Linked DNA regions of Homo sapiens. The protein of the gene in region 2 purifies or fractionates together with the protein of the main gene of each other region. This does not show direct contact. Each region holds a gene or a part of one and is shown on either strand. Other genes may lie near its edges. The genes, in order: VPS41, STX17 and VPS39.

Evidence for each region.
Region 1: the proteins of STX17 (region 2) and VPS41 purify together in Homo sapiens (affinity purification with western blotting; 2 studies listed by BioGRID and IntAct, with this or other methods). This does not show direct contact.
Region 3: the proteins of STX17 (region 2) and VPS39 purify together in Homo sapiens (affinity purification with western blotting; 2 studies listed by BioGRID and IntAct, with this or other methods). This does not show direct contact.

What each region holds. Positions count from the first base shown.
Region 1 is NC_000007.14:38,895,690-38,906,191, forward strand, and holds part of VPS41 (vacuolar protein sorting-associated protein 41 homolog), read right to left. Parts: intron 2,441-10,502; coding exon 2,402-2,440; intron 1-2,401. UniProt on the Homo sapiens protein: Plays a role in vesicle-mediated protein trafficking to lysosomal compartments including the endocytic membrane transport and autophagic pathways. Acts as a component of the HOPS endosomal tethering complex.
Region 2 is NC_000009.12:99,957,522-99,968,023, forward strand, and holds part of STX17 (syntaxin-17), read left to right. Parts: intron 1-2,395; coding exon 2,396-2,511; intron 2,512-2,583; coding exon 2,584-2,634; intron 2,635-10,131; coding exon 10,132-10,218; intron 10,219-10,502. UniProt on the Homo sapiens protein: SNAREs, soluble N-ethylmaleimide-sensitive factor-attachment protein receptors, are essential proteins for fusion of cellular membranes.
Region 3 is NC_000015.10:42,196,812-42,207,313, forward strand, and holds part of VPS39 (vam6/Vps39-like protein), read right to left. Parts: intron 3,151-10,502; coding exon 3,085-3,150; intron 2,856-3,084; exon of another isoform or gene 2,759-2,855; intron 1-2,758. UniProt on the Homo sapiens protein: Regulator of TGF-beta/activin signaling, inhibiting SMAD3- and activating SMAD2-dependent transcription.

The DNA.
Region 1 (10,502 bases), on a different chromosome or scaffold from region 2:
TTAATTTCCTCTGCTTTGTCCTTTTCTTTCACTGCCAAGCCGCTAAGGATGCCTCCCCCATCTCTGCCAAAAGCAGCACCATCCAACTCTTGTCACCTAAAGCCCTATACACTTTCAAGCTCCTTTCTTTAAATTCTCGAAATCCACCAAGTCTCACATCTGTTCTCAGATCTCCCCACTAAGAATGGGGCCCCCTTCTCACTAAGATGATTTTTATGTGCATTCTGCCTCGGCTGGGTCTCAGCTGTACTCTCTTTATTTCTACCCAGTCTCCATCTGACTGTCAGCTCCAGCGTCAACTCCAGAGCCGACTCTGCTGGCTTTGGATGTTTATTTTCCCACTTGCACTGAAGTTTGTATTACTCCCCATTTGCTAATTATACTAGAGGCCTAGATTGTGTGTGCTTTTATTTACTCTTTGTTGAGCTGTTTAGTATTTGGAGCATGTGTGGAAAGATTTAGATTTAGGTGGCTGCCAACACCCTCCTCACCTGCAAAATGAAATTCCTCAACAGAGTTCCAGCACTGTCTGATTCTGTACCAATGATTCTAAGAACACTGGAATCTTAGTTAATTAGAGATTTCCAAAATAAGGTAACCTAAAATGCTTTTCAATACTGTATGAGAAATTAACAAATATACCCTATCTATAAGCAAACTCAGAAATGCCTTACCAGAAGCCCCACAGTAATGGAAATCCTTATTAATGAAAATGTTAGAAACCATGACTACACAATGACATAATACATAACAAGCTTGTCCAACCCATGGCCCGCAGGCCACATATGGCCTAGGATGGCTTTGAATGCAGCTCAACACAAATTCATAAACTTTCTTAAAACACTGTTTGATTTTCTGCTGCAATTTTTTTTAGCTCATCAGCTATTGTTAGTGTATTTTATGTGTGGCCCAAGACAATTCTTCTTCCAATGTGACCCGGGGAGCCAAAAGATTGGACATCCCTGATATATAATCTGTTCTCTAGAGAAATATGCATAAGTCCAACTTTTCCCTGGAAAAGCAACAAAATTCACATAAGCTTATGCAGTATCAACCCAAATGTAATAGATTATCATGGCTAGAGTCATATCAGTGTGTATTTCTAGCAGGTTATCACAGATACATTTTCATTCCTCTGAGCGAAATGAAATATTAAAAGGAAAAATGTAATTCTTCTTATGAGTCCATCTATAAAATTGATAAGCCAATTACATTATGCTTGGGCCAGGTGCAGTGACTCATGCCTATAATCCCAGCACTTTGGGAGGCCAAGGCAGGCGGATCACCTGAGGTCAAGAGTTTGAGAGCAGCCTGGCCAACATGGTGAAACCCTGTCTCTACTAAAAATACAAAAATTATCTGGGCATGGTGGTGGGCGCCTGTAATCCCAGCTACTCGGGAGGCTGAGGCTGGAGAATCACTTGAACCCAGGAGATAGAGGTTATAGTGAGCCCAGACTGCACCATTGCACTCTAGCCTAGGTGACAAGAGTGAAACTCTGTCTCAAAAAAAAAAAAAAAAAAATTTATATTATGCTTAAACATTTCTTATGCAGACTTGAAAATAAATTTTTTAAAAACTCCTTCCTTATATATTATTCTCCTTAAGAAACTATCTTTATCACAATAACCTAACAACTTTTAAAGTAGCTCCCTTTTTAAGAAGCAAACTCCAGGCCGGGCGCGGTGGCTCACGCCTGTAATCCCAGCACTTTGGGAGGCAGAGGCGGGTGGATCACAAGGTCAGGAGATCAAGACCATCCTGGCTAACACGGTGAAACCCTGCCTCTACTAAAAATACAAAAAATTAGCTGGGCGTGGCGGCGGGCGCCTGTAGTCCCAGTTACTCAGGAGGCTGAGGCAGGAGAATGGTGTGAACCTGGGAGACGGAGCCTGCAGTGAGCCGAGATGGAGCCACTACACTCCAGCCTGGGCAACAGAGCGAGACTCCGTCTCAAAAAAAAAAAAAAAAAAGAAGCAAACTCCAATTTCAATGATTCAAAAATTATACCAACAAACATGTCACATTCATTAAAAGAACAAATAAAGAATAAACATCATAAAACCTACAGTGGCTATTTTTAAAAAGCAGGTGAGGGGGATGTTAAAGTGTTGAGATAAATTTCTAAAACTTTGTATCAATTTTCCAACTGCCAACATGTTTCAAGTTAAAATATTGTTTCAGATGAAAACTTTTTGTTCCTTTTCTTATTTTTTAAGCTAATCCATTTAATCTTTTTTAAGATAGCTGGCATATTAAAAGCTCTTCCCCAAGGCTTAGTTACCTATCGCCCTGCTTTACACCCTCAGCCCCTGGGAATGTTGCATTTAGCAAAGAAGCGCAACTCAAGAGAACAACGTGGTGAGCTACAAATCCGAGGGCTCCTGAGTCACCACCTTACCTCAGACTCATCTGTAGATTCTTCAAGGGACCCAGTTTCCTATAAAGCATAGAAAAAGAAAATGGTCAGAAGAGATGATAAAAGAATAATCATTTGCAAGGGGAAAGAGTCCTCATGTTCCTACTACCACGCATCTGCCCTTTTTGGAAGAGAATCTACAACTATACTTTAGAGGACCACATGCTCTGACTTTCACATGTCTCCTGCAACTTCTCCACACCCTGGCAGGCAGATCCTGCTGCTCTCCCTCAAAGAGTTAACAGGTAAACAAATTACCCCAGGAACTTATCATCTGAGGGCCTGGAAGACTCTCTCCCTTGTTAATAATGGAAACCCATCTGGCAAAGCAGCCTCACTAATCTCAGAAGGGAAGAGGAAACTGCCATCTCATGTTATCTACAAGCCAATTTTTATACTGAAAAGTTCTTGTGCTATTAATTATCATGCTATTAATCTGGTTGAGTTAAAATGACTGTCTTGCTAAAATAGCTTTTTAAAAGAATCTCCTACAGTGGTACCTATCAGACCCTGTGTAAACAAGCTGTATAATTTACATGCACTCTTTAAACCATCACCACTAAGACAAATTCTGCCATTTAACACAGTTTCCCTCTCGCTAGACAATGAATCTTGCTGCTCTGAAGGAAACAAAGCAAAAAGGGAAAAATTGACTTGATCCTGCTAATCTCTCACCTGTCCAGTGAAAGAGAGAATCTGCTGATGCCATGCATCCTCAAAGAGGTCAGCAAAATGAAGATTTACTTAACGTACTTATAGATATCAATAGCAATAAAAGGTTACAACTAATATGCTGACACTGAATGTAAGCACTTTACAACAATCCATGAGATAAACAAAGAACAAGAAAAAAATGGGGCAAGGACATTTTAGATATAACTAATACATTTTCAAGAAAAAAATGAACATTTTAAGGAAGATCGATGCATATATTACTCAATACAAGTTGGACAGCGGGATAAATGTAAATCTAGTGTTTAAAATCATTTTAATTTCATTCATCAAAAATTAGCAAGAGCCTGACAGGTGGCAGGCACCTTCCAAAGTACAGCCTGGAGGACAACACAGTCCTTGCCTTCAAAGGCCATGGGTAAAATGGGGATATGTTCCTTGTAATTAAGAATTTTATTATACTTGTATCATTAACCACAATGAATATTAGAATCTCCTCTGTAACTCAATGCAGCCTGTTTAGCTTAATGTCAATCCAAGTCTCATAAAGTTCTTATTCATTTGAAGCTACAATAATCCACAGTAACATTTTTGTTCTTAGCACTACATAAAAAAAACAATTATTGCACTACATGATAGCTGTCCAGAGAGTTAATGACATGTATCATGTTCCACCTTCTAAAATGTTTCTCCTCTGCACTCACCATCACAGTTCCTGGTTTTAGTCCTCTTACTGTACTGATCCTTCTCTTGTGGACATAGTCCACTTTAACATTAACAATCACTATTCTGACTTCTTTACTGAACATCTATTATAAACTGCTCATTATGTTCCATTCACCACCCACAACATTATAAACTTTCCTAACACCACTGGGGTTGGAAGAGTGAGGCTTAGAGGTTGAGTTTAATGACTTCTAACATCCTTTCCATCTCTGTGAGTCGCTGAATATTATGTTATTAGCATCAGCAATACAAGGCTTTGATAACTATGCCAATAAACCACACTTAAGATTCCTATTTCCTGTATGTACAGTTCTAAAAAGACACTTGAGTACTCTTTCAGGAAAATCACATTAAACCTAAGGAAATTTTTTTTTCCTCATATAGAATCCACTCAAGTATGCACATGAGGTAAATGGGTGAATACCCCATTTATGTTCTTCATTAAAACAAAAACATCTGGGCTGGGCACAGTGGCTCACGCCCGTAATCCCAGCATTTTGGGAGGCCGAGGCAGGTGGATCACCTGAGGTAAGGAGTTCAAGACCAGACTGGCCAACATGGTGAAACCTCATCTCTAGAAAAAATGAAAAGAAAATTAGCTAGGTGTGGTGGCATGCACCTGTAGTCCCAGCTACTTGGGAGGACCACTTGAACCCGGAAGAATCACTCGAGCCCAGCAGGTCAAGGCTGCAGTGAGCTGTGATTGCGTCACTGCGTTCCAGCCTGAGGAACAGAGTAAGACACTGTCTCGATTAAAACAAAACAAAACAAAACAAAATTATCTTAAGTGAAACAACTCAGAAACAGTCAAATATGCATGTTCTTACTTATAAGTAGAAGCTAAATAATGTGTACACGTGGACAAAGAGTAGAGAATGGCAGACCACGGAGACTGGGAAGGGTAGATGATGAGAAAATTATTTAATGGATACAATATATATTATTCAGGTGACAGTGACACTAAAATCCCAGAGTTCACCACTATGCAATATATGTAACAAAATTGCACCTGTACCCATTAAATGTATGTAAATTAAAAAAGAAAAAACAGAAGTCTCCAACCAGCAATTTCAATCCAAAAACTCAAAATCAAATTACACTCTTTCTCCACACCAGAAAGCATGCAGTGCCAGAATTTGACACCGTGAGGCAGGAAGATCTGAGACCTGAATCTTCAGGGAAAACTGGGCTCTGAGAGTAGCTTCTTTGGCTATGGAATTGATGGAGAACATTTACTCTAGGAAACTCTGAGACTTGCCTTCAGCACCACTACGAACATCTCACACAGACAGGCGATCTCAAAAAAAACTTGTTTCCACAATCCTACCAAAGCAATGCATGAGTGATGTCAAGAATTAGGCTGGTCTGTTATTTCTTAGCTTCATTCATTCATCAAGCCCTCTAATTAATATGCTAGAGAGAGAAAGGCAAAGAAGACGTAAAGTAAATGTCCTCATTAAGAAATCCAAGAAGGCTGAACTTTGAGAAAGGTAACAATTTGAGAATGAGTCAGTGGTTTTCAAACTTTTTTTTTAGCTTCACACTCTCATTTAAAGAATCTAACTTCAAATCCTGAAATGTAAGTTATAAATTATGCTGTTTTCAAAGTGAAATAAGCAAGACACAAAAGGACAAATATTGCATGATTCCACTTATATAACACAGAAGTAAAACAGAGGTTACCAAAGGCAGAGGGAGGATGTAGTGGGGAGTTACTGTTAAATGGGTACAGAGTTTCAGTTTGTGATGATTAAAAGTTCTAGAGAGGCAGAGTGGTTGTCTTAGTACATTTGTGTTGCTCTAAAGGAATACCTAACTAAGGCGGGTTAATTTATAAAGAAAAGAGCGTTATTTGGCTCACGGTTCTGCAGTCTGTACCAGAAGCACGGCACCAGCATCTGCTTCTGATGAGGGCCTCAGGCTGCTTCTACTCATGGCAGTAGGTTGAAGGGTAGCTGGCATATGCAGAGATCACATGGCAAGACAGGAAGCAAAAGAGGGCAATGGGGAGGTGCCAGGCTCTTTTTAACAACCAGCTCTCTTGGGAACTAATAGAAAGAGAACTCACTATTTCAAGGATGGGACCAAGCCATCGTGAGAGATCTGCCCCCATTAGATCTCCCACCTCTAATACTGGGGAACATGAGATTTTAGGTGGACAAACATCACAACTACAGCAGTGGTGATGGTTGCACAACAATGTGAGTGTATTTAATGCCACTGAATCATACACTTAAAAATGGTTAAGGTGGGGGTGGCTCACACCTGTAATCCCAGCACTTTGGGAGGCTAAGGCAAGAGGATTGCTTAAGGCCAGGGAATTTGAGACCAGTGTGGGCAACACAGAAAGATCCTGTCTCTACAAAAAAAAATGTTTTCAACTTTTTTAATGGTTAAAATGGTAATTTTATGCTATGTGTATTTTACTATAATAAAGTGCTGTTGATCAAAGCAAAAGTGATAGGCTGGAAGATACCCAGTGACACAAATGTCTATCTGAGCCAATTCTGGGTAACGGATTGACAGTTAAACTCAGAAACATTTCATTTTACCTTTCTTTTGCAAACCAATCCCTTAAGCCCAACCACCTACCCAAACAGCTTTACTGTGTGATTTCTGTGCCTTGACATGTGGCCTCTCTAATGTACTCATCACCTGCCATCAGGATTATCTTCCCAAAGCACAGACCAGACGGCCACTGCCCTCCTCAAACAACCCTCAGTAGTGCTCCAGCCTGAAGAATAGCTTTCAGATTCCCCAGCAAAGTAGTCAAAGTCCTTCCCAGTCTGGCCCCCAACAGACCTTTAGCCTCACTCCCCACTCTCTCCACAAACCTGTGACCCTCCAGCCACACTGGAGGACCCCTCGCCGAGATATTGCTTATATCTCTGTGCCACAAGTGGCAAATCAGTGGCCTGGGGTCTGGATATGGCCTGCAGGTGTTTTGTTTGGCCTAGGTGGTGTTTTTAAAAAAGCTTCCATATAAAAACCTGTACTCCTGACTGTATGTCTACATAAGATCCACACTTCCACATACCATCAGTTGCAGCTGAGCGGTTACACCCAGGACAGAATGCACTCCACCACCCCCACCACTCCCAATTTCTGACACCAAGGCACGCCTGCTCATGTGCACCACCCCCTGCCTGCCTGAGTTTGTGCTGCCTGCTCTGCACTTTCCTCATGTCACTCCCTCCATTTAGAAGGCCCCTGGCCCCATCCTGCACTCATCCTGATGGAATGCTCTACAGGCTCAGTGGGTCTCTCAGGGATACCCCAGGGAGAGGTTGCCAGGCACTCAGCCTGAGGACATTCACTCTCTCTTCAATATCAGAGCTTGGTTTTTACGTTTCTTCCCGTACCCCTCAGCTAGCACCTAATATTAACTGCCTTGTCCTACAAGTTCTCATTTTAAATATGCTGTGGATAAACCCAAAGGCTTTGCCTTCTTTGTCTCCCAGTATCCTACTGGAAAAACATGTTGCTGGTGATGATGATGAGACAAGCTGCCAATCTAAAACAAATTCTTCCTCCTCCATATGTTGCCTTTCCCTTATGAGCAATACCAAGCATATTTTCTCCAGACTCATGTCTGAATTATTAGCTTATGAACTGTAGGACAGTTACAGAAAGGGAACTGCAGGAAGGTAGCACCTTCCAACAAATGCAGCAATTCCAACAATTCCTTGGGCTCCTAGAAGACTTCTCTCATACAGGCTTTCAACCAGCCCCCATCCCTAATCCTCCCATCAGCATAGAACCCTATGACAATGGCCTGGGAGAAGGCTTGGCCCAGCTGGCCTCAGAGGTCAGGAGTGGTGAAAAGGAAGACTGTCAGCCCAGGACAGAGAGGATCCAGGACTTGCCTGGGTTGTGAAGTCCTCAGAATTGTAAGTGCCCACATACTGTTGGGGAAGAAAAACAGAATTTGGGGGAGAAATGGTAGCCTGGGGCCTAAGGAAGGCCACTCCAAACTTTGCAGGAGGGCTCACCTGGGTCTGTGTTGCAGGAAAAAAAAGAGCAGAGACCAGGCTCCAAGAAATCATCTATCTCCATCTATGCCTGGAGGTACATGTGAACACTCACTGAGGTACTGCCACCTTCTCTGTCTTCCCAACAAACTATGCGCCCTAGCTGAGCATAATGAGAAAGAGAGTTCTGATATAGGCACTGTCTGATATAGGCACAGGAAGGAGGAAATATTTTGTGTGGTATGTATGTGATATCCCTGTTGTCACAGAGCTTCAATTTAAAAAACCTCAAAGGAGTTGTGGCCAGCTTTAGACACTCAGGGACTAGGCTGGTTGAGTAGTAAAGATGAGGACTCAGGTTACCAAGCCCATTCAGCCTACTGGGCTCAGCTACTGCACTCATCTTATTCTGCAAATGAAGAAAAATCTTGACGTGTGCCCCAGCGTGGAAAAGAGGGCAAACTTGGTAACCAGGTGACCCAGTCCCAAATCTGCCTTTGCATGAGAATCATCAAAACTCAGTTTGGGGAATTAGCTAATACCCACTAACACACTCCATCTGCACAGACTCTGATTCAGTAGGTTTAAAATAAGAGCCTGGAATCACAAGCCATTTTTAACAAAAACAAAAACAAAAAAACCATAAGGAGGCCCAGGCATCAAGAAGAAACAAAGGCAACAGGGGACTGCACAGCCATGAATGGGAAGTAGCATGAGACACAGAAGCCCCTGATCTGATGAGTGTCCTCTCTCCAAGGTGTTAATGTGGGCGCGGCGGAGGCTACTAATAATCAGCTAGTGAAGTGGCCTCTAGCCGACCAATTCAGGTGAAGATAAGTGGAAAAACTAACAAAGCAATCCGCTAGTCCAGCAAAACTAATCTGTGACTACATTTTAGTTACATGATGGGAAAGAGTGCACCCTCTAAAATCTGTCTGATTCTATACTTTTAAAACTTCTTGTTTGGGTTTTGTTTTTCCTTTAGTTAGTAGTAACACTGCCTTTAAAATATCTATCTTAGCCAAACTGTAAGAAAAGAGAATTGTGCATACGTAAGCCAAGTCCAGGTTTCGATGATTAACCTCTGTCTTATTTATACAACCATTTCAACCTAGCCACTTTAACATACTTTATATTCACAAAAGTTTTAACATACTTCATACTCACAAAAGTTTTAGAGAGTAAAATTCCCAGTTACAGGCAAGAAAATCGAAGCACTCAAATTTGTATTGATTTGATTTTTATTGTAACATAATCACATGGGGATATACATGACAAATATGACATCTAATAATCCATAAGTGATCTACAATAAGGACAGAATTCCCCTAATTTCTAAAATGCAGAAGGAGAATTCAAAGTAGAAACTCTCCTACTTGATTAAGAAATAGATGGTCTAATCGTGGAAATACTTTAATGGACCAGGGTCCAGGTTGGTTGATTAGGAAGATCAAAGGGTACCTGGGGAGCAGGCAAGAGTAAAGAAAGTATAGAATGTAACCTACATTATAGTATAGATGTAATCCACATTACATCTGAATTAATAACTTAAAAAAGGTGCAAGTAAGATAAAATAATTTCACGCAAATCCTACTAATATACAATTTGACAATTTGAAATGCTATTTTCCCCCTAATAAATTCATTTAAACACTTTACTAAACACTTAGTACCTATAAAGCACTAGCCCTGTGGAAGATACAGACATGAGTAAGTTCTTGTTCTTATTCTTGAGGACTCAGCAATCTCTAGGAGAGATAAGACAAATACACAAACAACCAGACTTCAAGCAGAATGTTATTCATAAGAAAGATATGGACAAATACTGTTGGGCATCTGTGAATATGAAGGTCAACTATAAATCGTTTTGGAGCTAAGCAAAACTGCTGGTTAGAAGATTTCCAGGCAGAATGCAGGGTATTCATTTTTTCTGTAAACTATAAAATATATATGTAGTTACTTTTGACAACTACCTTTACCATATTAGGCAAAAGCAAGAATTTCCCAGTGACTTATAAAAAAATTTTCATTCATACCTAAAAAGTGGTTTTAGTTTCAGATCCTCTGAGCTGTTTTATACCACAATAACTCAGTGCAGATGTCACTATTTTGGTTCTTCTGAAAATAAATGGGGAGGGGAGCAATCACCAAAGAAACAACACTCACGAAAGATAATGTGGAGACATTTAGTTTTGTGTTGCTAATCCTGGAGATTACTGGCATTTATGATACATGATACCAAGAAAAAAATGTATGCCAAGTTTTCTAAAAAGTTCAATAGAACAGTTATTTTCTCCATTTTTGGGGGTTTTTTTGTTGTTGTTGTTTGTTTTTGAGATGGAGTCTCCCTCTTGTCACCCAGGCTGGAGTGCAATGGCACAATCTCGGCTCACTGCAACCTCTGCCTCCTGGGTTCAAGTGATTCTCCTGCCTCAGCCTCCCGAGTAGCTGGGATTACAGGCGCCCACCACCATGCCTGACTAATTTTTTTGTATTTTTAGTAGTGACGGGGTTTCACCATGTTGGCCCGTCTGGTCTCGAACTCCTGACCTCAGGTGATCCACCCGCCTCAGCCTCCCGAAGTGCTGGGATTACAGGCATGAGCCACCGCACGCAGCCCTATTTTCTCCATTTTTATACACTTTTAGCTTTAAAAAAATGGTATAATAAAGCCCTACTACCGTCATCAGATTTCAATGGCTTCCTACTGTGAAA
Region 2 (10,502 bases):
GATAGTAGAACTTCAGATCTTTTGTTTCCATTTCTACTGTAACTATCCTACAGCAGATCACCGTCATGTTACACTGGATATATTGGAAAGCCTTCAGACTGTTTTTTTGTTTTTGTTTTTATGTTATTGTTTTTGTTTTTTTTTTTTTTTTGAGACAGGGTCTCGCTCTGTTGCCCAGGCTGGAGTCAGTGGAGTGATCTTGGCTCACTGCAACCTCTGCCTCCCAGGTTCTAGTAATTCTTCTGCCTCAGCCTCCTGAGTAGCTGGGATTACAGGTGTGTGCCACCATGCCGGCTAATTTTTTGTGTTTTAGTAGAGATGGGGTTTCGCCGTGTTGCCCAGGCTGATCTCGAACTCCTGAGCTCAGGTGGTTTTTTTACTCTCTAATTTTGTCACCTTCCAACTGCATCCTTAATGTGTTTCTTACACGGTGGCTATAGTTTTCTCTGTAAATCTAAAATCTGATTATGGCACCTTCCCAGTAGTCTCCAACTATTTTTAATAGTAACATATTGATCTTTTGTGAAAAGCAAAACTGTTTAACATAGTTTACAAATGCCATGAATAATCTCAAAGTAGATTTCCAGCCTTAGACTTTGCTTTTCTCCTCATCACAGTCAGCTATACTGAACATTTTTCAGTCCCTAAGCGTATGCACATACTGTTCTCTCTGACCTGAATACTCTTTGCTTCTCCTTCCACCCCTGCACCAGTTCACCTGTGTAGTAATTTCTGTTCACCCTCAGGCTTCAGCTTCAGAGCCTTCTCTGACCACTCTCCCTTCCACAAGTCTAGGTTAAATACCTCTCATCTGTGCCCGTGTAGCACTCTATACTTACCAGTATTACAGTTCTTATTAGACTATACTGACTGAACTTGACTATTAATATGTCTGTATCATGCATTTTATGGTAAGATCTGTTAACAATAGCAGCAGCAGTAACTAATTTATTGAGCACTTGTACTTTATATATAACCCAGGTACTGTGCAAAGTAAATATCACCTTATTTTACAAATGAGAAAAACCAGCCAAAGAGATGAAATACCCAAGGCAAACAGTTTATAAATAGCCAAATCAGAATTCTAACCCAAGTCTTTCTGACTAGGCCCAGGCTCCTAACCACTACACTATGTTGCCTCCTCCGAACTGTTTTTATGGTTTGCCATTGTGTCTGCAGCACCTCAGCACACTGATCAGCAGGTAGTAGGCATTTAATAAATGTCAACTCAATGAATGAATGATTGGTAAAACCAATATGAGGAAATAAAGACTTGAAGGTAGATTTTAAAGTGTGAATTAATTCATCATCATAGCAGTGTTTAATGGGGAAAGTCCTACTGGGTTGACAACTTTTTAAAACTCAAAAGAAGTAGAAGCAATGGAGTCATGGGCCAGAAGATTGAGGAGAAGAGTAGTGACAAAAAAGACACATATGGTAATGTTTGGTGACAATCTTATTATTACCAATAGTGACTGATTATCATTAATAAAAATATATTACTTCCCTGCTTTCAACACCTTCTGTATCTGGTATTTACATTGAAATAGCCAAATAGAAGTTTAAGGATGAAAAATATTAAACCTATTTATATAGGTACGTCTCCTTGGAACATTGGCCAAGTAGAATAGTTTTCTTTTGGTGCTTCTTCCACATTTAGCCCTAGTTATTCAGATTGGATAGATAGTATTTGTAGCCATTTTTTAAATGACTGTGTAGATTAAAAAAATATGTGTGTAAGCTTGGTGTCATGGCTTACGCCTGTAATTCTAGCATTTTGGGAAGCTGAGGCAGGAGGATCAGTTGAGGCCGGGAGTTCAAGACCAGCCTGGGCAACATAGCAAGACTGTGTGTCAATTAAAAACAAAAAAAAAAATTTTAGAAAAAAAAAATGTGTTAACTAATCTGGGGAACAAGCTACCCTATGGATAAATCTTTTTTTTTTTTTTTTTTTTGAGGCAGGATCTTGCTCTGTTCACCTAGGCTGGAGTGCAGCGGCGTGATCACTGCTCACTGCAACCTCGACCTCCCAGGCTGAAGTGATCCCCCCACCTCAGCCTCCCAAGTAGCTGGGACTACAGGTGTGTGCCACTACACCTGGCTAACTTTTTAATTTCTTTGTAGAGACGAGGTCTCACTCTGTTGCCCAGACGGGTCTTGAACTCCTGGGCCCAGGCAGTCCTCCCGCCTCAGCCTGCCAAAGTGCTGAGATTATAGGTGTGAGCCACTGCACCCAGCCAAACAATTCTATTTTTGTAGAATAATCAATTTCCTTTTAGCCTAAATTTAATTAGACACCATTTAACGTGGCATTTGTTTTATGAAATCAATTTATGCTGTCTCTTTTCTAACAAAGCAAATAAACTCTAAACATGGGGTTATTATGTTCATCCAGGAGCATTTCATACTACTGAAGCTGAAGCTAGTTCTCAGAGTTTGACTCAGATATATGCCTTACCTGAAATTCCTCAAGATCAAAATGCTGCAGAATCGTGGGAAACCTTAGAAGCGGTATGTTAAAAAATGTTTTCTTTTTGGTAGTTGTGAGGCATAAAAGTAACTTCCTCTCCCTTTCTTTTAAAGGACTTAATTGAACTTAGCCAACTGGTCACTGACTTCTCTCTCCTAGTGAATGTAAGTATATAACTGTTTTGGATGCAGAATTGTTGGATTATTAGAATGAGAAGCTTTTATAATCACTAGGCTTTTAATTAGAATTTTAATAGAACTTATAATTTTTAAGACTGGTATTAAGCCATAGATAGAAGTTTAACTGTTCTCAAATTCCAGATTAATTCAAGAAACTTTTATTAAGCACTTGTTATATACAAGCAGTGTGTTAGATGCTTAACATTGAGAGTGTGGTCAGGTTGGATATAGAAATAAATGAAGCCCATTCTCTGCCTTTGAAGATTCTTGTTTTTTGTGTTTTTTTTTTTTGAGACGGAGTCTCACTCTGTCGCCCAGGCTGGAATGCAGTGGCACAGTCTTGGCTCACTGCAACCTCCGCCTCCCAGATTCAAGCGATTTGCCTCCCTCAGCCTCCTGAGTAGCTGGGATTACAGGCACGTGCCACCATGCCCAGCTAGTTTTTGTATTTTTAGTGAAGACGGGGTTTCACCATGTTGGTCAGGCTGGTCTCAAACTCCTGACCTCATGATCCACCCGCCTCAGCCTCCCAAAGTTCTGGGATTACAGGCATGAGCCACCACGCCCTGCTGCCTTTGAGCATTCTACAGTGAGTGGAGATAGGCCTGGACCCCAGAAACTGAGCTTTCAAGCATGATGGCTAAATGCAAAAGCAAGAATGAAGAGAGGTATTATCAGCTCCAAGGAAAAGCATTTAATTCCAAAGGAAGGAGGCAGGAGTCATAAGGTAGAAAGAAGCATTAAGGATAGCTTCACACAGGTAGACAGTATTTGTATGAGCCTTGAAAAATGAGTAAATATCCACTGGGGGAAGTTATGGAGTATATTTGAGAAGCTGAACAAAGACATGGAGTAGAGAAGTGTATGGCCTGTTCCAGATTGACAAGTACTGCAGTATAACCAAAGCATAAGGTACCATGGGCAAGCAAGGAGGGTGAGGGCCAGATTGTGATGGCTTTGAATGCCATGCTAAAGAATTTGAACTTTACTTTGTGGGCATTAGAAAGCCTAATACTGATTCTTGAGCAGGTTAGAGTCATGCAATTCAGTCTGTGCTTCAGAAAGATCACTGTTGGCTTTGTGAATAATGGCCTAAGAGAGGAGGAGGTCATGGAAAGGAAGACTGGTTAGGAATCAATTGCAAGAGTTCACCTGGAGCAATGGCAATACCAGTGTAAAGGTAAAGGACAGCTGAGAGATATTTCTGGGGGACTTAACAGAAATTGGAGGAAGATGGAGCCAAAGATAAGGAACATTGTCTTTATTCTGCATAATTGGGTGTCAGTGATACTGTTAACATAGATTAGGAAGCACAAAGTCAATTTGTTGGGAAAGATAGATTTTCCACCATTTTTCTAAATTGTTCTTTTTGTCTTTCTCAGGAGTTATGGGAAGGTAGGATGTATGAATACGTGTGTATGTATATTTATGTATGTGTGTCCACACAGGCATACCTGTTTCTGCTTGCAGTTCTGTCTAGGTTTAGTTCTTTGTTTCTGATCTAACCATGATTTTGGGGTTATCTTTGAGTTACGGTTTCCCTGAGATCTAATTTTAAATGAGAAGTTCCTAGATCACACAATCAGAATTGGAATGAGAAAGGACTCAAGAGGCCAACTAATCTAATCCCTCTACTCTTGCCCCAATTTCTAAAATAAATGGTCTTTTAGCCTCTTTTGGAACAATTACAGCACAAGGATATTGATACTTAAACTATTGCATTTGGAGGGTCTAACTCTTAGAAGGGTTAGAGTTAAAAGTGTCTGCCCTATAATAACTTCTTTTTGGCATTTTTGGCCTCTAAAGCTACGTACTGAACAAATTTTGCCTTCTTTCCATATGAAAGTCTTTCAAGGTTTTGAAACCATCATCTTTCCTCACTCTATCCCACCCCACCATATTTTCTTCTCTTCAGAACCCTTGCTTCTTTTGCATTCCTTCTACAATATAATTTCTAGGCTTCTCAATACTGGCTTCTTACTATGCTTATGTTCCATATTCTGAATATTTTCTTGAAATGTGTTACCTAAAATTGAATGCAGTAAATTGTTTGAATTGCTTCTGGATGCCTCTAAGTTAGAAGAAGCAAAATATTTGAAGTTTCTGGATTAGGTATCTGTACAATATTAATATACTCGCAAACAGAAGGAAATAATAGAACAAGAATCCCAAAATATCTGTTGTTTCAGAATCAACATTTATTCAACTATTGTAAACTAATAATCTCTGAATCCAGTGCAGTTTGTAAAACCTATACATGTATGGTTACACAAATATATACACTTGCCAAAAGTCATTGGTCTGTACACATAAAATGTGTTTTAATATATGTAAATTATACCTCAATAAAGCTGATTTTAAAAAACAAACTACACATGTACAAAGTTCTTACTCAGTACAAACACATTTCTTTTCTACTGGGATAGGCACATAAAAGAAATATTAAAGGTCTGTGACCATAAGATAGTTACATGTTTGATTATATTATGTAAGCAGCTCATAACCTCTAATCTAAGGGAGATTTGTGTAGGAAAACTCTGGCTGTAGCCACAGCTCTATACAAATGTCCTGTTTGTAATAATCTGTTTAAGTACATGAGACAGAATGCTAATAAGCAAAAGCTCAAAGGAGAACCCCTGATTATTATTCCCAGGGTGACTAAGTTCTCATGACCACATGGCCAAGGATTCACAGAAGCTCTATTTAGGCACAGAATGACCTAGGAACATAACCAGAGTGACCACATCCTCTCATTATCATCACATGGACATGATAGTGTCTAGACAAATTAACCATGTATTTAAGGAACACTTTCTATCTGCGTAGCACTGTGCTAAGCTTAATGAGGAATAGAAAAAAGCATTTAAAAAACTTACAAGATAGTAATAGTGGTTGCACAATATTGTGAAGTTACTTATTGCCACTAAATTGTACACTTCAAAATGGTTAAAATGGTAAATTTATGTTATATTTATTTTACCACTATAAAAAGAACTTACAAAGCCATTGACAGATCAAGGTATAGTACAATAAATGTTAATAAATTAATATCTACTAGGTACCCTGCTCTATTTTTCTTCAGCCTTTGTTGTTCAAGTGCCCTCTTCTCTCCCTATAACTTTGTAACTAGCCCTATTTCTAGTCAAGGAGAATTTAAAGAACCCTGGGCCAGTAGTTCAGTAACAACTCACCCTTGCTGCTAGTCTGTTTTGACTTCTGCCTTTTGCCTTATTCCCTGTCGTTTTTGTAATCCAGTTTTACTCTGGAAACATAAAAACTGGTTGCAATGGATTAGATCAGATTCCTTCATTTATTACCTATGTGACCTTCAGGATGTTATTTGACAACAATGAGCTTTATAACACTGATGGGAGGACTAAATGAGGTAATGTGTATTATTAAGTACTTCCCATTCTGTTCCCTTCCACTGACCCCAACTGCATTCCCACTTTTGTCCTTCCTTTATTTTCATTCCTTGTTTGGCTCCTTGCAAAAATTCTACTTTTTCCACCACTATTATCCTTAGGCATTTTAGTACTGGAATTCCTTCAGTCCCTTTCCAACTGCTGAATCCTCTGTTAGCAACATCCTACTTATCTACTCTGCTTATTGCTTACTCGAAGCCAATATAATCACTTATTTTGCCTATATATCATAGTATTTATAAGTTTGTTTCTGGGCCTTTTTGTGTATATGATTGCATATGATTAAGGAGTATATAGAATATATCATAGGAGTTTAGAACCAGAATAGCTCAATGTGAACAGGATTGGTCAAGATCTAAGATTAGAACTTGGCCTTGAAGGCTGGCTGGAATTTAGAGAGGAATAAATGGACGTACCTGGAGTTTTGGTATTACCCTCTTAAATAAACTCGTAGCTTTCCAAGAACCTTAAACTTTACAACTACTATCAGAACTCTCTATGGAAGACCACTGTTAATGATATAAATGGATTTGGGGGTTAATTTTTGAATGTATTATTATTGCTTGACATAGAGGATGCTAGGCCTACAAGTGTCCCCAACAGGCATTCAAGAACAAAACAGTTCATTGGTTTTGAATTTATATTCCCAAATTGCATTCTGCTTGACAAGTATAATAAATCACAGTTTATACAGAAACTTAGGTACTCCTATAGCTGTTCGTCAAGATTTGTTATGTTCAGGCCAATAGGGGGACTTAATTCAATGTTCTTTAAAATGAAATCCGTAGACATATTCTTAGAGTCATTTGAGAATTTTCTTTTTCTGTAAAAGGAGGTCAGTATATTACTCTAGCTTGAGAAACACTGCAGTGTAATGAGCTAAACACTTAAATATGGTTTAGCTCATTGTTAAAGGAATGCTGAGAACATATATGGGGTGCCAAACTATAAAATGGCAGGTATGGAATTTGAAGATTGTCAAATGTGGGAGGCCTAAGCAGATGAAAATAAACATGAGCAAATCAGAAGCAAAACCTCAGGGGAGATTGATAGATAGAGGTTAGGAGGCTCCTGCACCACCATTAATGTTTAGAGCTTGATTTCACAGGCTGGGGCAGGGTTGTATATGTATCTTTTGGTCCCACAAAAAGAGCCAAGGACATAGTGGACAGGTAGTGACCCAATTCAGCTCTGTATGGAGTCTGGTTTGGCATTCTGCTGATGGTAATTGACAACTCTGTGACAATAGTTTGCTGCCTAACTGTAACCTTTGTGGGGGTCAGTGAGTCCTCCTTACTCAAGAAGCAGAATTTGAAGATATGGGCAAAGTTTGAAGTTGCAAACCAAGCAAAATACGGACAAGAGAAAGGCAGACGTGCACAATCGAGGGGTGATTATTGATCCCAGGATAGGGGCTGTCTGCCCTCTGCCTTATTCCCACACCCCAGCCCCATATCTTAGCATGCTTTCTGATGGCATGAATAAATACTTATAGATGTGGGCTACTCCCCAGGGTGGGATGGGCCTCATCAAATGCTGGTGATTGCAATGATGGGGAACTTTGTAGTTCAAATAATTAGTGATCTCAGGATTGGTTTTTTGCCTGTGGTTGCTTCTTCAGTTATTCCAAATGATTTTTATGAAAAAATATTTAAATTATTTTAAAATTTTGCTTTAATTTTTAAAAAGTCATAGAAGTACAATATCCAACCCTTTTTAAAGGAAGGAACATTAGAAAGTATTTCCCTGAGGCTTTACGATTACACTTGGGGTATAGAAATGGCAATAATCCTGGCAGGCTCCTCCCTCTTGCTGGAATTATTTTGGGGCTGAAGGAAGGGAGACACTGACTATTTTTCCTCTACCTTTCAACTCATCAACATATGACGGCTGATGGTAGAGTTTTAAGCCTGTGATTTATCTGCTAGCATAGACTGTTTCAGGCAAGAGTGGAAAGTGTTGGGGGTGTCCTAAATAGAAACAATGATAGGGTGTCAGAAATCTAGACAAGTTGTATATTATTAGTGCTGGAACTTTTTCTTCTATGGGTCAGAAAAAGAAAGCTGACTTAAATAAGTTTTGCTATTGAGGAAAATAAAAATTGAATGATTGAATGAATGCTAAAAGATACCTGAAGTTTTAGTGTCCTAGAATTTTCAAGCACCGAAAGAAAAAGTTAAATATATTTTTTGATAGAGAGATGAGAGTTAACACTTCCTTGGGGAAATTAGGATAAATTTTTCTATTTTTCCCCCCTCACACTTTGCAAACACATTTTATCCCCACTTCAACTCTATGAAGGTATAAGTATCACTATTCTTACTTGATAAATGAGAATACCAACACCTAGAGAGCTTGAGTAATTTGTCTAAGAGCACATAGTGGCGTTTGCTGAGATTTGAACACAGATTATCTGACTAAAGGTGGTGCCCTTGATCTGAGCACATATAATAGTGGTTCTTAAAGTGTGAGAATTGTGGACTGGCAGCATCAGCATCACCTGGGAGCTTACTAGCTCAGGCTTCATCCCAGGCCTACTGGATCAGAAACTCCGGGGATTAGGCCCAGCAATCTGTGTTTTAAGAAGCCTCCAGGTGGAAGACTGAGAACCATTGTTAAAGTTGTCTCTCACAGAGACATTCAAAGGAAAACTGATAAGGGACTTTCTTAGGCATTGTTTTAGAGATGTCAAGATAGTGGTGGAGAATATTGGAATGAAGGGATACCACAATGGCGAAGATAGACATATTTTGTGTATGAGAAGGGAAGTAATATCAGTAATGCTAAGAGGAAACAAACATGGGGAAAAAGTAGCTGTGTGGTTTGGGCTTCATGTTTTCAAATGAAATAATGGTTGGAATTAGAAAAGTGTTGTATGTGTCTGCCTCAATATAAATGAATAGGCCAATTATATAAGGGCAATCAAACACTTCAGGATTAAAGTTGAATTATTTCACCCTCATTGCAGGTGGCATCTATCTAGGATCAAAGAGAGATTCTCTTTTTTCTGCACATTAAAAAAACAAAACCAAAATAGTCTGTAAACTGTGATGGTTGATTATATGTTGGCTTATACATTTGTTGTTTATACATTTGTGATAGTTGGTTTATACATTTGCTAAATTTCATCATACTATACCATTAAAAGCAGTACTTGTTATATGTAAATTCTATCTAAATAAAGTTGAATTAAAAATGGGAATGTGTTCCTACAGCAAGTAATGAGTTCGTGTCACTGGAGGTATCTGAGCAGAGGTTCAGTAACCACTTGTCAGGAATGTTACAGTAGGGCTTCGCACATCAGAGAGGAGATTGACCTGATGACCTCAACATTCCTTCTACCCAGAGATTCCATGAGTCACAGTTGCTGTTGTGCCAGCACAGGTGTTGCCATTTTATGTAGAATGCTTTATTAATATATTTGATCTGAAACATTTTAAACTGTCATGATTTTAAAATGTATTAAGATACACAGGTGTAAAGCACAGAACAGTGATTTCATTCACTGTTCCCTACTGCATATTACAAATGGAAAGATCTCATAATAGATCAAACCGTATTGTAGTCTTGTTCCTGAAACATAACAATTTGTATTTATTGGACCAAGGGCATTTTACTCCTAAGGTAAATGTGCCTGATTTAAACTGAATCCTCAAAGAAGGTAAGTTAGGGAGGTATTTTGGGGTTTGATTTTGTTGGGTTTTTTTTTTCCATCAAACCCAACATGACATGTAAATGCTTATTTGGATTTTTTTTTTCTGGAAAGTAGATTCATTTGGAGAATAATATGTTTGTATGTTTGAGTGAATTTTAGCGTGAGATGCTTTTTGCTGTAAAGTTGCCACCCTTTTATTACCTAATAATTAAGACCCCCCCCTTTTTTTTATGAAAGTTAATTTGTCCTTTCGACATGGCTTATCAGATGCTATTAATGAACCACTATTAAGATGGCAAGGCTGCAGTACCCAGGGCCCTGATTACAGGAATTAAAATAGTGTGTGTTGGCTCCCTGCTGCTCCCCAGCAGGACCGCTCACTCATAATTCCTTTGCATCTAGTCTCAGCAGGAGAAGATTGACAGCATTGCAGACCATGTCAACAGTGCTGCTGTGAATGTTGAAGAGGGAACCAAAAACTTAGGGAAGGTAAGATTCTGCTCCTGCTGACAAATCAATGGTACTCTGGCTCCCAGGAATCTCTAGTATTAACCCAATTGATCTGCTCTCTTCAATGTTGAGGGAACCAGCAATTAAGGAAATAAGGAAGAAATGACACATAGGTAGTGTAAGAAATCAATGTTGTAATATTCTACTCTAAGATTCATTCTATCAGGAGAGGAATTTCTTCAAAGAGAGAATAAACTGTAGCTCTGCTGTAAGGCATTTGGTGTTACCAGGGAATATTTGCAGAGGGTAAAAGTGTAAGTATG
Region 3 (10,502 bases), on a different chromosome or scaffold from region 2:
TCCCATTACTGAGTATATACCCAAAGGATTATAGATCATGCTAGTATAAAGACACATGCACACGTATGTTTAATGCAGCACTGTTCACAAGAGCAAAGACTTGGAACCAACCCAAATGTCCATCAATGATAGACTGGATTAAGAAAATGTGGCACATATACACCATGGAATACTATGCAGCCATAAAAAAGGATGAGTTCATGTCCTTTGTAGGGACATGGATGAAGCTGGAAACCATCATTCTCAGCAAACTATTGCAAGGACAAAAAAACCAAACACTGCATGTTCTCACTCATAGGTGGGAATTGAACAATGAGAACACTTGGACACAGGAAGGGGAACATCACACACTGGGGGCCTGTCGTGGGGTGGGGGGAGGGGGGAGGGAAAGCATTAGGAGATATACCTAACGTAAATGACGAGTTAATGGGTGCAGCACACCAACATGGCACATGTATACATATGTAACAAACCTGCACGTTGTGCACTTGTACCCTAGAACTTAAAGTATAATTAAAAAGAGTGGAAAAAAAAACCTAAAAAAAAAAAAAGAAAAAATCTAAGTAATGCTAAAAAAAAAAAGATACAAAAATGGGTTGGGCATAGTGGTGTGTGCCTGTGGTCCCATCTACCTGGGAGGCTGAGGTGGGAGGATGGCTTGAACCCAGGAGGTTGAGGCTGCAGTGAGCCAAGATAGCGCCACTACACTCCAGCCTAGGCGACACAGCAAGACCCTGTCTCAAAAAATAAAGGAGCAGAATGAAGCCTAGAGATGTCTATTGAGGAATGTTTATACTCATATTTTAGAATCAACCAGTTAAAAACACATTTATTGAATAATTACTAGGCTAGACATATCAGAGGATAAAAATGTCACTGGCTCAACTGAGCTCCAGGGAAATGACTCAGATCAGATCAGAGCCTACGATCCCTACCCCTAGTCTTTTCTTGACCCTATTATCCCCTCCCTTTCCTCAGAAAGACAGTCTACCCAAAGACCTATTTAGGCTTGAAATATCTCAAATCTGGAAACCAAATTAACCCTAGAACTAATTCACACGGGCCCAGGTCTATTTCTGGCCCACATCAGGCCAGATCTGGGCCAGAACTAAACTGTTCACCAAGAGTATAGGGAAAAATGGCATTTCTTGAAGAAAAGTTTCAAATCAGAATTTGATTTCCTAATTGTCTATATTTAATCTACCTATGGCGAAACCAAGGCCCAGGAACATTAACTAATTTGTCAAAGGTGACATGATAAAATGATCATAGGGCAAGGAATAGTCGCCACCAGGGTTCCAAGCCAGATTAACACTAATATTACCAGTTCAGGTCTATACTGTGTTGAGACTTCATTTATAAAGTCTTGTTTTCAATTTCTGATCACCACTTACATGTGAAAGCAAAGCAGAGAGTCAAAAAACAATTGTTGAATGCTGAATAAGATAAGCATTTTTAGCTTTAAAATTAAAATGTGAGCTTAATTTTAAAATTATAGACCAGGCAAATATCACAGAACGCAAATATTTTGGCTCCGAGAACTAAAAAAAGAAATTTTTTTTTGAGACAAAGTCTGTTGCTGAGGCTGGAGAGCAATGGTGTGATCATAGCTCACTGCAGCCTCAACCTCCTGGGCTCAAGCGATCCTCTCACCTCAGCCTCCAGAGCAGCTGGAATTATAAGCACGTGCCACCACATCCAGCTAATTTTTTGTAGACAGGGTGTTGCCATGTTGCCCAGGCTGGCCTCGAACTCCTGGCCTCAATCATTCCTCCTACTTCAGTCTCCCAAAGTGCTGGGATTATAGGCATGAGCCACTTCACAGGCCATGAGAATTAAAAATTTAAAACATTAAAACAAAGATCAACAATGTACTGCTCCAGGGCCTAACTGAGGCCTTTGCATGTTTTTGTAAATAAAGTTTTATTGGAACATAGCCATACCTATTCATTACATATTGCCTACAGCTGCTTTCATGTTACAAAGGCAGAGTTAAGTAGTAACAACACTGCAAAGCCTAAAATATTTATTCTTTGGACCTTTTCAGAACAAGTTTGCTGACCCTGATTTAGAGGACAGTTGAAAAACTTAGAAATGAAATAAATTATCTATTTTGTTCTCTGGTTTCTTTTCTTACCCTGCTGCAGAAACTGACCAGGATATCTTCTCTTTCCCGAGTGCACTAGTAAGGTGCTTTTTCCCCCAGTGTTACCCTTGCTCCAGGTTCCACAAGAGAGCTCTATTTATCTTAAGCTATCTCTTAAGCTATTTACCAGAGAAATATATATTATATTGAAGGGTATGAAATTAACTGCAGATTTCTGTAGAGTGGCTCCAGGGCATAATACCTAAACACATCTATTCTCCATAAAGAGAGCACAGAAACGAAAACAAGGAAGGGCAGTGAGGTACTTTCTGCCCCAATAAAAAACACTCTTTAACAGAATACATTTCAAATACTTTAGTTATTACTCTACATTACTGACAGTCACATTTGATTAGAACTTTAGTTTTCACAGTTTCTTCGAGCCTATTATTGCATCCACCCCAACAACTTTGTGGGGCAGAGAGTTTATAGAAAACTGATGTTGGAAAGAACTTGCTCACGGTCACGCAGCCAGGGGGAAGTGCACATGAAGGCAAACCCTGGTCCTCTCTTCTTGTTCTACCCCTCATAAGCCAACAAGATATTTTAAATCGATGTTGCCTAATTTTTTTTCCTACCACCACACCATATATACAGGAAGCTTATGCCCATTAGTAGTATTTCTTATTATTGGTAGTGAGTCTCAAAGAAAAGAGGAGGAAAACAACCACCTCCTCTTTTCTTAGAGACTCACTACCAGTAATAAGTAATTCAGTAATAAGTAAACCAGCAATTCATCCTCACCTCCCAAATGCAGGTAGGGCAATACAATTTGGAGGAGAAAAACCCTAGGCATTCTCAAGTCTTCTCCCCATTTTCCCACCGTGCTCCCTCTAACCTTCAATCTCTCTTTTAATGGTCCAGGAATAACTGATTTCACAGTTGTATACTAGCTGACTATTAAAACTTATTTTTTTGCATGAGCAATGTGCACTTACCAACGTCCTTCCGAATCCTATAGAGAAGAAGATGTCCTTGTTTGGTTCCCACAAGAAGCCATTCCTCTGGAAAAACAAAACAAAACAAAAACAAAAACAAAAAAAAACCAGCTTTGAGAAAGGTCAATCAGCTTGAGTATAACCCTATTTTTTTAGCTGGGGCTTGTAATCAGAAATCAATGTGTCAAGAAAATGAGTTGCTTTTGATAGGAGGTGTTTTGCAAAGCTAAGAAATGTTTATACTCATGTTTGAAAATCAACCATTTAAAAACACATTTATTGAATAATTACTAGGCTAGACATATCAGAGGATAAAAATGTCCTGGCTCAATTGTTTTAATGTTAAACTAATAAAAAAGATAGAAGGGCTTTGTATTTTTAAGATTAAATTATTATGATTTTTATTTTTTGTTATATATACTTTTATTAAGATATATATCTTCAGATATATATTTTTAAATTCTGCTAAAAAGAATATGATGAAAGTTTATAAAATCACAAAATGGAAGTACAAATGTGAAACCAGGTATCCAACCTCAGCAATAATAGCTAAGAGGCATCCTTTAAATGCTTTTACTTTCAGGAAAATAAATGACGTAACATAATAAGCTTACAGAATTCATTATCTCAAAAGATAGTCTAGTAGAAAATATTTAATAACAAGTGTTGATGAGAATATAAAGAAATTAGAATCCTCATACACTGCTGGCAGGAATGTAAAATGGGAGAGCCACTTTGGAAAAGTCTAGCAGCTCCTCAAAAGGCTAAACAGAGTTACCCTGGGACCCAGCAATTCCACTCCTGGTTACACACCCAACAGAAATGAAAACATATTCTACACAAAAACTTGTACACAAATGTTCACAGCAGTATTATCTGTAATAGCTAAAAGATGGAAACAAACCAAATGTCCACCAACTGATGAACGGATAAACAAAATGTGGCATGTCTATATAACGGAATATTAGCTAACAATGAAAAGAAAGGAAGTATGGATATATGCTACAACACAGATGAACCTAAAAACATGATGCTAACTGAAGGAAGCCAGACAAAAGGCCACGTGATTCCATTTATATGAAATGTCCAGAGTAGGCAAATCCACAGAGGTAGAAAGATTAGCGGTTGCCCAGGGCTGGTGGGCTTGGGGGAAAATAGAAAGTAAATACTAATGGGTACTGAGTTTCTTCTGAAAGTGATGAATATGTTCTAAAATTTATTGTGCTGATAGTTGCATAACTCTGTGAATGTACTAAAAACCATTTAATTGTACACTTTTTTTTAACTTTTATTTTTTTAAGATAGGGTTCTACTCTGTTGCCCAGGCTAGAGAGCAGTGGTGTGATCATGGCTCATTGCAGCCTCCACCTCCCTAGCTCAAGTGATCCTCCCACCTCAGCCTCCTGAGTGGCGAGAAATACAGGCATGCACCACCACGTTCAGCTATTTTTTAAAAAATGTTTATAGAGATGAGGGCTCACAATATTGCCCAATCTGGTCTCCAACTCTTGACCGCAAGCAATGCCCCTTCAGCTTCCCAAAGTGTTGGGATTACAGGGGTGAGCGACTGTGCCCAGCCAAATTGTACATTTTAAAAGATGGTCTAGGCTAGTGGTTCTTAAACTTTAGTGTATCACAATTATTTGAGAGTTTGTTAAAATACAGAATGCTAGGCTCTACCCCGGAGCATCTGATTTAGTAGGTTTAAAAGTAGGCCCAGGAATTTTCATTTCTAACAACTTCCCAGATGATGCTGATGCTGGTGGTTCAAGGACCACATTTTGGGAGGCACTGGTCTAGGTAAAAAGAGGCTCAGAAAGAGTTTAAATAATTACCCTGACAGACCCATATTACATCATTCAAGGAAGGTAAGCATGTACAGATACTTCCTTAGCTTTTTGATAACATAAAGGTCACTCATTCCTTTCATAAACTCTCTTGATTCTTGACCTCTGTAAAATAAAATCTTGGATAATGGTACAAATAGATAACTTTTATTGAGCATGTATTGTGTTCCAGGAAATGCTAAACGCATCTGTTATTTCACTAATCCTCACAACTATCCCTTGAAGTAAGTCCTTTTTTCAAATCCCCATTTTATAGATGAGGAAGTTGAGGCCTAGGGAATATATAACTTTTCCAGAGTCACACATGTGGCAAGCAGCAGAGTTGGGATCCCAACCCCAATTTGTCTTGATTCCCAACCACATGCTGTGATGTACTTACTAAGGCACCCATGTCAAAAAAAATGGGTGTCAGCCAAAGGTTGTCTGAATGGCAGTAGTTATATTTATAAAAACAGGTCAGCACCTACATTCCTTATCCAAAGGATCAATAGTATTTCTCCAGGATGATGTTCTTAGTCATCCAGAAAAACAGAGTGATTCTATTTTCTTTGATTTGGGGTCTTAAAGGAAAGGCAGGTCACACACAAAAAAAATGTTGAAATCAGAAATAACAGCAGCTCTAATGAAGGCTGGAGATTTATGCTGCAGCAGAACATGAAAAAATAAAAGAATTCATTTTGCAATATTTGTTTTGTAAAAGATACTATATTTAGAACTTTATAGATATCATGATATCAAGCAATTTAGCAATATTAAAGTTGATTTTTAGGCCACCCACTGATATTTCAGATATAAATAAAATGAAGTGGAAATTTTTTAAAAATCCACTCATAACATACATAAAAATCTACAACCAAAACAAAAGGCCAACATAATGTTCATCATCTTCCCCATCCTTCTCTCTCCACTCTGTCCCCCAAATCCCTGCCAGTTCCTGCTTTTCTTTATCTTTTTTAATAGCCTCAGCTTCCTCCCAAGTCGGCCAGGGTCTATCAATTCTACCTGTAATGGTACCTCATGACAGCCTCCTCCTATAGAGTCTCTCTGGGGACCCCTGTGACACCTTCAACTGGTCTCATTCACTCCATGCATTCTCTCGCATTTGCTGTCAGTTATCTTAGAGCAGATCTCTGATGCTGTCACACTGGGGCTTAAAAAATCCTGTGAAGCTACACTACCAAAATATGAAGTCAAATTCCTAAACATGACATTCAAGAGTCTATTTTCCATTTTTATTGAAATGTTTCTTGCCAATAGATTTTTTAATTTACTTTTTTTTTTTCTTGTGAACCCAAACTAAGACATGACAAAACATTTTAAAAAGTCAAATGTCTAGGGGCCGGGCACGGAGGCCGAAGTGGGCGAATCACTGGAGGTCAGGAGTTTGAGACTAGCCTGGCCAACATGGTGAAACCCCGTCTCTACTAAAAAATATAAAAATTAGGCCGAGTGTGGTTGGCTCATGCCTGTAATCCCAGCACTTTGGAAGGCCAAGGCGGGCAGATCACCTGAGGTCAGGAGTTCAAGACCAGTCTGGCCAACACAGTGGAAACCCATCTCTACTAAAAATACAAAAAAAATTAGCCAGGCATGGTGGTGTGTGTGCCTGTAATCCCAGCTACTCAGGAGACTGAGGCAAGAGAACTGCATGAACCCCGGAGGGAGAGGCTGCAGTGAGCTGAGATCGTACCACTGCACTCCAGCCTGGGTGACGGGGCAGGACTCTGTCTCAAAAAAAAAAAAAAAATTAGCCAGGTGTGCTGGTGAGCACCTGTAATCCCAGGTACTAGGGAGGCTGAGACAGGAGAACCACTTGAACACTGGCGGCGGAGGTTGCAGTGAGTGGAGATTGTGCGCCATTGCACTCCAGCCTGGGTGACAAGTGTGAAATTCTGCCTCCAAAAAAAAAATTAATTAAAAAAATAAAATGTCTATTCTACTGGTCATAAAAGGGAATCAATCCGATGGATTAAATTCTCTGTAAACTTTTAAATCAACCTGATTGATTACATGTGCCATTAGCCAGAGGACCTGTCCCATGTTGGGTCCTCCACTCTCTAGGACACGTTATTTAACAAAGCTGTGCATGCACAACACAGAGGATGACAAGCCTGCAGAGCACGCGCAGCATGGGATGGACAGTGCCTTCTGAGACTCAATACAGTAACACACAACAGAAAGTGAGACATACTAAGCAAACACAAAACGCACACATAAGCAAAGCAGTATCAGCCCTAAAAAACTCCTGACGGCCTAACCCTGAGCCACAAGGTTGGACTTAATTCCTCCTGAGAAGGAGGGCTAGGCCCTATTGCTCATAATTACCCTAATGGAGCTCCTTCCAACAGTGCAATGCAGTCCAACTTCATGTAATAAATTCCATTTCTGGCCCAATGCTGGCCACTGCAGGGACCACAAAGATAAGTAAGATAGTAGTCACTTCCCTTCGTTGGGTAACATGGCAAATAACAGTACTTCTCATCTGGGCATAAGCCCCCAATTAGCTGCATTAGAATCACCTGGACTTATTAAAAATGCACATTCCTGGGCCCTGCACATGGAGATTCAGATTCAATGGCTTTGAAGTGGTACCCTGAAATTTACATTTTAAAATTTAATCTTGTTGGCTGGGCAAAGTGGCTCACGCCTGTAATCCCAGCACTTTGGGAGGCCGAGGTGGGCGGATCACCTCAGGTCAGGCGTTTGAGACCAGCCTGGCCAACATGACGAAACCCCGTCTCTACTAAAACTACAAAAATAAGCCAGGTATGGTGGTGGGTGGCAGTAATCCTAACTACTCGGGAGGCTGAGGCACGACAGTGGCTTGTACCTGGGAGGCAGAGGTTGCAGTGAGCTGAGATTGCACCACTGCACTTCAGCCTGGGCGACAGAGCGAGACTCAGTCTCAAAAAATAATAATGAAATAAAATAAAATAAAATAAAATTAAATTAAATTTTATTTGTTTTTATGAAACATTCATGTAGTTCCAAAGCTAAAACGACGAAAAGTCTAGTTTCTATCATTGTCCATTTTATCCTCTCTTCTCCCTTCTGCTATGGGCATCATTTTAGTAATTTTTGACTTATCTTTCCATTGTTTCTCTGGAAAATATAGGTATGTATGTATATATAGACATACAGATACTCATATATACATGTGAAGTCTGCATTTTTTACAGGCTTTGAATATACATTCAAGTTTGAGAACCAGGCTCTAGAAGCAGACATGATTTACAGGACATGTGACCTTGGAAAAATTTCTTAAATTTTCTAAGCCTTAGGTCTTTCTTCTGTAAAATGGAGTCTTATTTTATAAAAGCCTAATACAGATTAGCATTTAACAACTGCAAGCTATTACTATTCATATTAACATTATTCATTAAATATATATTTAATGAATACCCATTGAGTCAGGAAATGTTTTAGGTACTGCAGATATAGCAATGCAGAAAACAAAGATACTGCCCTGAGGGAACTTATATTCTAATGTGGAGTGAGAGAGGCAATAATAATTAAATATATAAAATAACAGTAGATGGTGACCCATGATTAGAAGATAAGGCTAAGAAAACAGCACATTGGTGGATGTGGCAATCTCTTTTATATAGGATACACAGGGAAGGTTTTGCTGATTTGGGTGACATTTCAGCAGAGAACTGAGTGAAATGAGGAATGAACCATATATACAAAGGCAAGTGAGTGCCAGGCCAAGGAAACAGCAAATGTAAAGGCCCTGAGGTGGGTATGTGCTTTGTGCATTGATGGAACAAAGAAGGCTGTGTGGGACTGGTACCAGAAAGGAGTGAGAGGTAAGTACACAGAAGACAGGGAAGAAATCAGGGCCTGATCATGTCAGATGTTGCCAGACAGGGTGAAAACTTTGGAACTTATTCTAGTTGTGATGTGATACCATGAGAGGGTTTTGAGTAGAGGATGGAATCAGATTTAGGTTTTCAAAGTTTCACTCTACCTGGTAGACAAAAAACTGAAAATGGCACACTGGCAAATATAGGGTGATCAATGAGAAGACTACTACAGTAATTCAGGTGACAGATGATGGTGCCTTCAAGAGTAGTAATCATCAAGATAGAGAGAAATGACTGGATTTCAGATTTATTCTAGGGGTAGAACACACAAGATTTGCTGATAGATGGGATACAGTGTAAAACAGAATGAAAGAAGTCAAGAACGATTCCAAAGCTTTTGGCTTTAGTCAAAGAGGTAAATAGAAATGCCACTTGCTGAGACGTAAGATACAGGAGGACAGGCATGTTTGAGGGGAGAGGAATCAAGAACGGTTTTGGCTATGCTACTGGACATCCAAATGAAGATGCTGAAAAGGCAGCAGGATTATACAACTTTGGAGTTTAGAAAGAAATCATCCTCATCATGTTCTCTCCTGATTTCTATTTCCCAGGAGACAGAGTATGTTGTCTCTAAGACATTTACACCTCAAATACTATTTGGCCCTGTGTGACCTGCCTCTGGAAGTTCCTGGACGAACTTTCCATCCAAAGGCACAATGTAGTTAAAAAGGGGTAATGACTAGAAAGAGCAATAATTACTGCTGCTCAAATCTGGAAATAAAGCACTTTTGAAGCAGGAGGCAGTTAATGGCCTCTTGTAACCTAATATGTACCTAAGCACCTTAGGAACCAAAGAGCATTTCTCCTGTTCGGTGGGTGATCAAGGAAGGCCAAAAGCTACCTATTGTTTCAAAACTGTGTTCCTGAAAACCACAGGTGCAAGGAATCTTTACTGTGACAAAGTGGAGTTGGTGAGAGTCTAGGAGCACTATGTGCTAATGGTCCAACAGGAGATCAGAGTCAAGGATTCTGACGAGCTAAGTCAAGTGTAGCCACAGCTGCATTAATCCCTTTCAGAAACATATGTCCTTAGCTGAGTTGGGTACCCCCTCATCCATGTTGCAATAATAGGCAGCATATGTCTCTAGTATTATAATCTGTTCACGTGTATTTGTCCCCCAGTGTGTGTCCTAGGAGCACAGGCACTGTTTCTTATTCATCATTGTATTACTGTCCCAAGCAAAGAGAATGGCCCGTGTAGCCACCTAATAAGTATATCTGATGAAGCAATGGGGGAATTAATCCTTTCATGCAGTGTCAGGTCTTTCATTTAAAAACTTTTTCTCCTCCTCTATTTAAATGTTTAATGAGAGCATTTAATGACAGAAATTGGTTTTCTTGAGATGTCTGGAGGAAGTAGGATTCTCCTCTTAACCCAAAGGACTAGAACTGCTTACTGTGGAGGTATGATTTTAAAGAGACCCAGAGCTGCTAAAGGAGGAAGGGTGCACATTAACATGAAAATTCTTCGTGAAAGAACCCTACAGAAGAAGTCATCAAGAACTCTGCAAGGATGACTCGGTGACACTGTGAACAGCTGACGCACATGGTATCAGACACCACCAAGATTCCATAAGGCCCATCATGGTTACCTATCTAGCTCAGTATAAGATCTGATTAAGGGATCTGAATCATCTTTTTATGGTCCTTGATTTCTAGGACCTAAACATTAAGAGGAAAGTTAGAAATGATTTCCTTGGTCTTT